2 separate regions of the Homo sapiens genome follow, and region 1 is linked to region 2. A link means that fine-mapping ties the variant in region 2 to the expression of a gene that starts in the linked region. Tissue or cell type: pancreas. Region 2 holds a variant in brackets; the other region holds the start of a gene. All regions are shown on one strand. Distances are between the middles of the regions.

Region 1 (4,247 bases), 23 kb before region 2:
CGGGGCTGGCCGGGCAGTGGCAGGGAGAGGCCAGGTCGCCACCACCCGGAGGCGGGGGTTTCGGGGACGGGGAGGGGACTGACCGGGTTCACCCGCCCGCCCGGCGCCTGGGTCCCCGGCTCCGGGGGATGCAGTTTCGGGGTCACGAGCTGCTTTCAAAAAGTTGAACACAATATTCGGAAACCCACCCGTAGGAATTCTCCCCCCACACGCGGCACAATACCCACTCCCCTCCCCTTTTTCATTCCTTCCTCCCCCGCTTCCTCCTCCTGCCCCTTCCCCCTCCCACCCTTCAGCCTATAATCCTTCCCCTACGAGAGAAAGGGATCGGGAAGAAAACATGAAGTGTCTGTTTTTGTGTCCCAACCTTTGGGCTCTTTCTGGGCCCTCAGTGAATGACCGCCCAGAGCTTTCAGCTGCGTGGAGAAGGACTCATGGCCAGGAGGAGAGGAAATATATATGGAGTGGAGAGAGCACTGAAATGGGGCTTGGCAGGTCTTCCCTTTGGAGGAATATTTTTCTGCCCCAGTCGTCGTGTTGAAGACCTGCTACCCCACGGCTGTCTCTGGCTAAGTGAGCCAGTATTGGCCCCTCGCCGGACCCAGGGCCTCCCTGCCGCCCGGAATCCTCCAAGGAGGCTTGCACTTGTCGGCTTGCTCTTCTCCCCGGCCCTCAGAGGCCTGGCACTGCGGGAGTCAAGGCCTAAGCAGGGCTCCAGCTCGGGGTTTAGGGGCTGGGACACTCACAGCCCCAGTCACGTTAGGTTTCCCATTTAAATTCTCTCTCAACCTCTCTTTCTCTCTTCCCTCATTGAGATCACCAAAGTGGTGTGGACACGGCGCCTTGCCCCCAGATCTGCATCGGAATGCAGAAAAGATCTTTAAAAAAAAAAAAAAAAAGTTTTGAATTCCTCAATGATTTTTCTTCTGGAAAGGCAGCTTAGGATAATTATTTCAGCTTTATTGAGGGCAGATTAGTTGAAGTCTGGGCGCTGCGTTTCAATACGCGTTGTACACGGGCCGACAATGTGGTCATTGTTGGCTACTGTGTGTGAATCCATTCAACATATACACTTTTTAACACCAAACCGAGTCCTGTCTAAATATACACAGTGCTCAGGGAAAGACGTCTCTGACCCCGACAAATCTGCGTAAATCACACTTCCATAGTTACAGAAGCCTCACAAAGGGAGGCCCGGCTCAAGATGCTGATTACAGCTTCTTAAAAGCAACATACCTAAGAATAAATACCCATGCCTGGCCTAGGGGCTGTGGTGGCCAGAGGCAGAGAGGGCCCTCTGTGTTCTATGGGCCTTTTGGCGTCTGTTTTAGGCTTTCGATGTTACTTTCCCTAGAGAAATTAGACAGTTTAAAAATAATAATGGTAATTATTATTATTTTACAATACGAGCAAACAAGCAATTTTCAGGCCTTATTCACTTCATCCGGGTGGCTGGCCTCCAAAGTTTGAGTGCCCTCTGGGGCTGGCAGGCAGGACCAGAGCTCCTTCTGTTGTGTGGTGAGGAGTGGGCATCTGTAGGACTTTTCTGGGTCCAGAGGGCTCTTGGGCTTCTCGGCTCCCGCAGCTCCTCCACCACTCCTCAGAGAGGCAGCTGAATTCTGGGAAGAAACAAAGAGTTGAGTTGCTTCTTAAGATGGAAAGAAGTGTACTGTTTGGACTGTTATTTTAAAATACAGGGTGGTGGGGGAAATCGAGGCTCCTTGGCCGGGGAGGGAGTAAAGAGAAGCCTAATTGATGAAGAGGGAGTTGAGGTGAATGCGGTCCATGGGCACCGATGGGGGAGGCAAGAGCGGCCTCCAGCACCCTGGGAATTGGGCTCAGGCTCCCTGGCGCCAGATACCCTCGGAATCCGGGATCCCCGGCTGGCGCCACGGCCCGCTGGGCCAAGGTCGGTGCTTGGTGGGCCCCATGATCTCATCTCTCCTTTCTTCCTTGCCACTATTAGTGCTCACATAGGCAGAAAGAGGCGGCCCGACGTGCAAACCATGTGCAAACCGCGCCCGCTGGGCTGGTCAGCCGTCTTTCCTTGCCTGCCGACCTGGACTATGTGGAGCCTGGGGGACCCTCTTGCCTCCCAACAAAATCCCCTCTCTAATTGCACATCCCATTCAACAACTCTGCCCAGGGCTTTTCGAATTTCTGGATCAACTTCTTTAGGAAAAAGGGAAGAAGAAGTCTCAGAGACAGCGGTAGAGAAAAGAGGAGAGAGAGGGAGAAGAGAGAAGAGAGGAGGGGGAGGTAGCGAGATTAAGAGTTGCAAAGATAAAAAAAATTCTCTTTATCCCCCCACTTCTCCCTCCTTCCCTGCTCTCCCCCTCCCCCCGCCCTCTGGCTAAGTGGTAAAACCGTCCTTACGTTCTCGGTATTGATTGGCAGGGCTGACAGTGATTGGCAGTGGTTGCCGTGGCAACGCCACAACGACACGCCACAGACCAATAGAAAAGCGAAACAAAATGTTTCAATGCTGCACTCACTGTGGATTTAGGGGAGATATTATGAGGCTGTTGTCATTAGGGCGATTGCGGTGGAATCGCTGAATCTTGACTCGGCGGTGGTTGGCTCTCCCTCTCCTCTCTCCCTCTCCCTCTCCCTCTCTGTCTCGGGTTCTCTCTCTGCGCGCGCGCACCGGGCCGCTCTCCTACCTCCCTCTCTATGTGGCTGCGCGGGTGTGTGTGTGTGTGGATGTGTGTGGGGTGTGGGTGTCCCTTACGCCCTTCCTCCTCTCCCTCCTCCTCCTGCTCCCCCCTCCTTTCCTTCTCCTCCTCCCCCCTCTCCTCTCCCTCCTCCTGGTCCTCATCGCCCCTCTCCTCCTCTTCCTCCCCTCTCTCTTCCTCTCCCTGAATTTTCTCCTCTCCTCTCAGGTCAGTCCATGGTATTCCGCTCCCCCCTAGACCTCTATTCCTCCCACTTCTTGTTGCCAAACTTCGCCGATTCTCACCACCGCTCCATACTTCTGGCGAGTAGCGGCGGCGGGAACGGTGCGGGAGGCGGCGGCGGCGCGGGAGGCGGCAGCGGCGGCGGGAACGGTGCGGGAGGCGGCGGTGCTGGCGGAGCAGGCGGCGGCGGCGGCGGCGGCTCCAGGGCCCCCCCGGAAGAGTTGTCCATGTTCCAGCTGCCCACCCTCAACTTCTCGCCGGAGCAGGTGGCCAGCGTCTGTGAGACGCTGGAGGAGACGGGCGACATCGAGCGGCTGGGCCGCTTCCTCTGGTCGCTGCCCGTGGCCCCCGGGGCGTGCGAGGCCATCAACAAACACGAGTCGATCCTGCGCGCGCGCGCCGTGGTCGCCTTCCACACGGGCAACTTCCGCGACCTCTACCACATCCTTGAGAACCACAAGTTCACCAAGGAGTCTCACGGCAAGCTGCAGGCCATGTGGCTCGAGGCGCACTACCAGGAGGCCGAGAAGCTGCGCGGCCGCCCACTCGGCCCGGTGGACAAGTACCGCGTGCGCAAGAAGTTCCCGCTGCCACGCACCATCTGGGACGGCGAGCAGAAGACGCATTGCTTCAAGGAGCGGACTCGGAGCCTGTTGCGGGAGTGGTACCTACAGGACCCCTACCCCAACCCCAGCAAGAAACGCGAACTGGCGCAGGCCACCGGCCTCACTCCCACACAAGTAGGCAACTGGTTTAAGAACCGGCGGCAGCGCGACCGCGCCGCGGCGGCCAAGAACAGGTTAGTGGCGGGGCCCGCGGCCTGGCTACAGCCTCAGAGGCCTGGGAAGGGGAGAGGGGTTGAGATGGGGCTAGCGGAGCGGCCGCTGAGAGCCAGGGAAGCCGTGACTCCTGGCCAGTCGGAGAAAGTTTCCGCTTGTCCGGGACGCGCGGAAGAGGGGGCCGGGCTGGCTGTGGGTGTATTGATTGCTTTGACCAAGAGGGGCTTTCGTCAGGGCAGAGAGTGTGTGCTTGCGACCCGAGTACCCGCAGCCCCTGGGAGACTTAGCCCTGCGCTGCACCCGTGCCTGCCTCCTCAGCCCTGCCGCCAGCTCGGCGATCCTCTGGAGCCTAGAGACAGGGAGGGAAGGAAAGCACTCTTTGCCATCTGGTTCTTATTTCTGTGCGTTGCAAAACCCCGAGAGAAATCCACTAGCGTCAGAGAGAGGAAAGTGAACCTGGGTCCCTATCACAAGGGGAAAAGGCCAGAGGCCACTGCGCAGCGGGCCTGTTTCCCCGCAACGCTGCACGTTGCCTGACCGGGAGCAGGAGAGCCGGGCTGGGAGTGGAGAG
Region 2 (4,247 bases):
ACAACCACAGCCCCTCCTTCCTACCCCCACCTCTGGTCATGGAAACCAGACGCCCCAGTCACTCAATGGACAGATGCTGAAGAACTTGGAGAATAATCACAGACAGAGCCCCCTTCCCAGAGGGACAGACCCATTGCCAAGGCCTCAGCCCAGAGGGACTGTGCTGGTCCCAGAAACAGCCCACATAGAAATGGTTTGGACGATTGGCTGGCCTTGTAAGGGTGGCTGGACGGGGGCCAGCTGGTAAAACATCGCGGTGGTGAGGAAAGGTGCCTGGAGCTAATGTGTATAGATAGGAGTATCATTGTGCCACCGGGCCAGGCATTCCCCACCCAGCTGACCTGATTATGGATGGAGGACAAGATGCTGCTGCTGCCAGCTTCCCCAGACCCCCAGACCATGCAGCACTTCCTGGCCTCAGACAGTTCCTCCTCTATGAAGATTTGTCCAATCAGAGCAGCCACAGGCTGCCCCAGCCTCTCTGTATTCACATCCTGGACCTTCCTGGCCTGACACCCTCAATTTTATACTGCATCTTGTTTGCTTCCATAAATGTCATCCTGTGTGTCAGATCACATGTCCCCCTTTTTTTGGTCTCAGAAAATAAGATTGTTATATTTACATTACTTCATTGAGTTTTATTTTGTGGAAGGCAGAGGGAGAGCGTAAGTAATGAGTTTGTTGTGTCTTGCTTTCCAACCCATTGTAGATTTCCTATTTTTTCTTTCCTGTTGTAAATGTTAATCAATCAATCTACAATCATGTATAATAATAATGCTTATACTTTCGGTTAGTGGCTCTGAGTTCTACTGACTTAAGTCCCATACACCCACCAGCCTGGAATTCCTTCCAGTGGGGCTACCCCACAGCTTTCTGGGGCACAGCCTTGCTTTCTCTCACAGTCTGGTCACTGTTGAAAAAAGCCGACATTGTCTTCTTGATTCAAATAGGCCTTCTGGAAAACATTATTCTGAACAATCTCACAAAGATCTATAAAGAGTTTTCTTTCTTTCTTTCTTTTTCTTTCCTTCTTTCTTTCTCTTTCTTTCTTTCTTTCTTTCTTTCTTTCTTTCTTTCTTTCTTTCTTTCTTTCTTTCTTTCTTTCTTTCTTTCTTTCTTTCTTTCTTTTCTGAGTTGGATTATCTTTCTGTCACCCAGGCTGGAGTGCAGTGGCATGATCTTGGCTTACTGCAACCTCCACTTCCCGGGTTAAAGTGATCCTCCTGCCTCAGCCTCCCAAGTAGCTGGGACTAGTGTGCCCACCACCATGCCTGGCTAATTTCTGTATTTTTAGTAGAGATGGGGTTTCATCATGTTGGCCAGACTAGTCTTGAACTCCTGGCCTTAAGTAATTCACCCGCTTCAGCCTCCCAAAGTGCTGGAATTACAGGCATGAGCCACCGCACCCAGCCAAGTGTTTTCAAAAATTGTGAACCAAACACCCAGCACCTTAAAGTATGTGAGAAGTTTAACATTCCACAATTAGACCACTTGATCTCCACAAGGGGGATACTGTGATCCCAGGAGAGCCTTGCCCGGGAAGCCTGGATTGTTCTAAAGCTTGGAAGTGACATCCCAGGTCCACACTGTAGGTTTCCTCTCAGCTCTGGGTCTGGGGGCCTTTGTCATGGCTGCAACTTGCAGAGAGGTGTCTTAGGACTGGGATGCCGCTGGCTGAGGCCCTCTTGAGGGTCCTTTTTCCCTTTCTACAGCCACATATTGGATTCTCTTATCGGAGCTTGGCAAGCTCTTCCCAGGGGATTTGCTGTTCCTGGCTACTTCCTCTCTTCCTCCTCTCCCCTTCCTTCTTAAGTCCCCACCCTCTTCATCTTCCTCTTTTCCCTTCTTCTCCCTTTTCTTTTCTTTCTTTTTTTGAGATGGAGTCTCGCTCTGTCGCCCAGGCTGGAGTGCAGTGGCATGATCTCGGCTCACTGCAACCTCCACCTCCTGGGTTTGAATGATTTTCCTGCCTCAGTCTCCTGAGTAGCTGGGATTATGGGCACACACCACCAGGCCCAGTTAATTTTTTTTTTTTTTTTTTTTTTTAGTAGAGATGGGATTTCACCATGTTGGCCAGGCTGGTCTCAAACTCCTGACCTCAGGTGATCCACCCACGTCGGCCTCCCAAAGTGTTGGGATTACAGGCATGAGCCACCAAACCTGGTGTTCTTCCCCCTTTTCTTGCCCTTCCCTCATCTGCCTTTCTGGACAGCCCCGCCCAGTGTTCCCTCTCCCTGGGGTCTGTGTTCCGTGTGACAGCCCCCTGCAGGTGGAGGAGCCAGCTCCCCATGTCCTTGCCTCCCCAGTGCTCCAGCCTCCCTGCCTGGCTCAGCCGCCTCGGCAGATGCAGGCACCCCCTGCATTGTTTGCTGTCCTGAAGACGAGCAGCTGCC[G/T]CACTAATTGCCACCAGCAGGGGGGCCGGGCTGTGCTCGCACTCCTCCTGCCGATTAGGGGGCGACAGGGGGGCGGTGGGGGGGGGGGCAGTTTTCAGGAGCCGAATGAGCTGAGCCAGTGTTGAGCATTATTCCAGGAATTTTAAACACTCGTTAAAGGCTTTGCCATGTCTCACTTCAGTACACATCATGCTCCAGTTACTGCTGGGAACTGCGGGGGCATCAGCCCGGGCAGCACTTATCAATATTTTAGCACGAGAAAGGCAAATGATGTTGAAACATTGAACTATATTTCCATCTGTTCAAACTGAAATGGAACAAGCTTAGCTCAGGAAATGGAATCTCTCCTCCCCAGCTGCCTTGGAAGCAGCAATACCCACTGGCCTGGCCTTGGCCCTTGCCTCAGTTTCCCCTTCACCTCTCTTCTCGATTAGTCCCCAGTGTTCATAGCTTATGGGCATGATATTGAGCAGGTGTTAGGTTTGTGGGTAGAGCAGGAGTGGTGGCACCTCAAAGAACCTGAGAGGGACCCCCGTTCTTGTTAAAACGTGCCTTCCCCATTGACTGACAGAGAACAGTGGGGTCAAATGCGGTCTGTCTTAGTGCCAGGGGACATCCTCTCCATCCCCTGCACGGGCCTGTTTCAGTGTCTCTGGACTGTCCGTCCTGCAGGAAGACCCAGGATGGCTGGCTGGATGTGAAAAGGAAAGCACTGACCATATACAGGTGGACGAACACCGTAAATACCACACACAAATAAAGCATTTATGGTAGAACCCTGTTTCCCCTGGAACAAAACAGAATTTATTGGCAGGAAAGAAACTTAAGAAATATTGGCATTCAGTTGTCTGGGAAGAACAGAGAAGTTTCTACAGTGTGGAAAGCAGGGTGGCTGATGTGGGTGGAGATGAGTCATCTCATGTGATTTAGGGGAGAGCCCATGGGATGTCTCCTCCAGCAGGGCCCCCAAAAGGCCTGTGGTTAACAGTATTCAAGGAAGAAGGAACCCTTTTGTCCCCAGCCCTAAAGCAGAATGGGGGATTGCTTCTTCCCATTTCCCCTCAGACTGTCTTTTGGCAACCTCTCCCTTTGAGGCTGTTCAGTTTAATTTGGTTCATCTGCAGGGAAATAGGGGTGGGGTGGGTGAAGGGCATGTGGTAAGAGATGGGCCCAGAGCCTGCATTCCCCAAGACTCACCCTGCTAAGAGGGGTCCTGGGGACTGGTGTGGGGTATATACTTTTTGTTTCTGGCATCAACTGAAGAATAATTGCAAGACATTCGTCACCCAGGCCCCCATGCAGGCAGCTAGGCTGGTGACAACTTGCCTTTTGGGGAAGGGGTTTCCACTGTGACAACTGTAGCAGCAGCAGAGAGGCTCTTGTCTGTCACAGGAGATCGAGGGCTGCAAAAGCCCGAGAACCCACTGATTTCATCCCTCTCTCTTTTTGCAGACAAGGCCACCTACATCCCAAGCCAGCTGGAGGAGCAGCTTCCAGTCTTCAGAGATGGGCCCCTCTTCTTCAGTTGGCCTTGGTAGTCAGGACAGAGGACAGAGGGATATATTGTAACATATATTGTAAAATTTGAGCCACATACACGGGATAAATGACAACGCAAATAATCATCTCCGAAAAGAAATCTGACATCCGACGACTTAGAGGCCAGAGCCATTGCTGACGCTCCTGGGGAGGAACATTCTTTGCAAGCATTTGTGCCTCAGTGAGGGTGGTGGGGAGCCAGCAAAGTGCTGGGCTCTGCAGAAATCTAGGGGGCTGCCTGGGTGATGTACAAATGCAGACCTATTACATCAATAGAAAAATGTAATGTGTTCATTACTATCAAGGCGGAGTGCT

Which allele goes with the higher level. Alleles are on the strand shown, and positions count from the first base shown. SD is a standard deviation of normalised expression in the study named.
With allele T in place of G in region 2, the expression in pancreas of the gene that starts at base 2,488 in region 1 is lower (moderate effect, 0.62 SD a copy in GTEx).

Evidence for each region. PIP is the estimated chance that this variant, and not a neighbour inherited with it, causes the effect.
Region 1: it holds the start of SIX3, and the variant in region 2 is the best candidate, but not a certain one, in a credible set for the expression of SIX3 in pancreas (GTEx, PIP 0.87).

What each region holds. Positions count from the first base shown.
Region 1 is chr2:44,939,215-44,943,461 of GRCh38, forward strand. SIX3 (SIX homeobox 3) reads left to right here and starts at 2,488. Exons shown (of 2, transcript NM_005413.4): 1 at 2,488-3,696. The coding sequence starts at 2,891. It overlaps SIX3-AS1 (SIX3 antisense RNA 1), which reads right to left and starts at 2,664. Exons shown (of 2, transcript NR_103786.1): 1 at 2,496-2,664; 2 at 940-1,619. RefSeq lists enhancers at 152-653, 654-1,153, 1,922-2,448, 3,531-4,247.
Region 2 is chr2:44,962,573-44,966,819 of GRCh38, forward strand. No RefSeq gene overlaps it. Among named protein-coding and RNA genes, the nearest start is that of SIX3-AS1, 23 kb to the left of the region's middle. The variant G/T (reference allele first, on the strand shown) is at 2,394.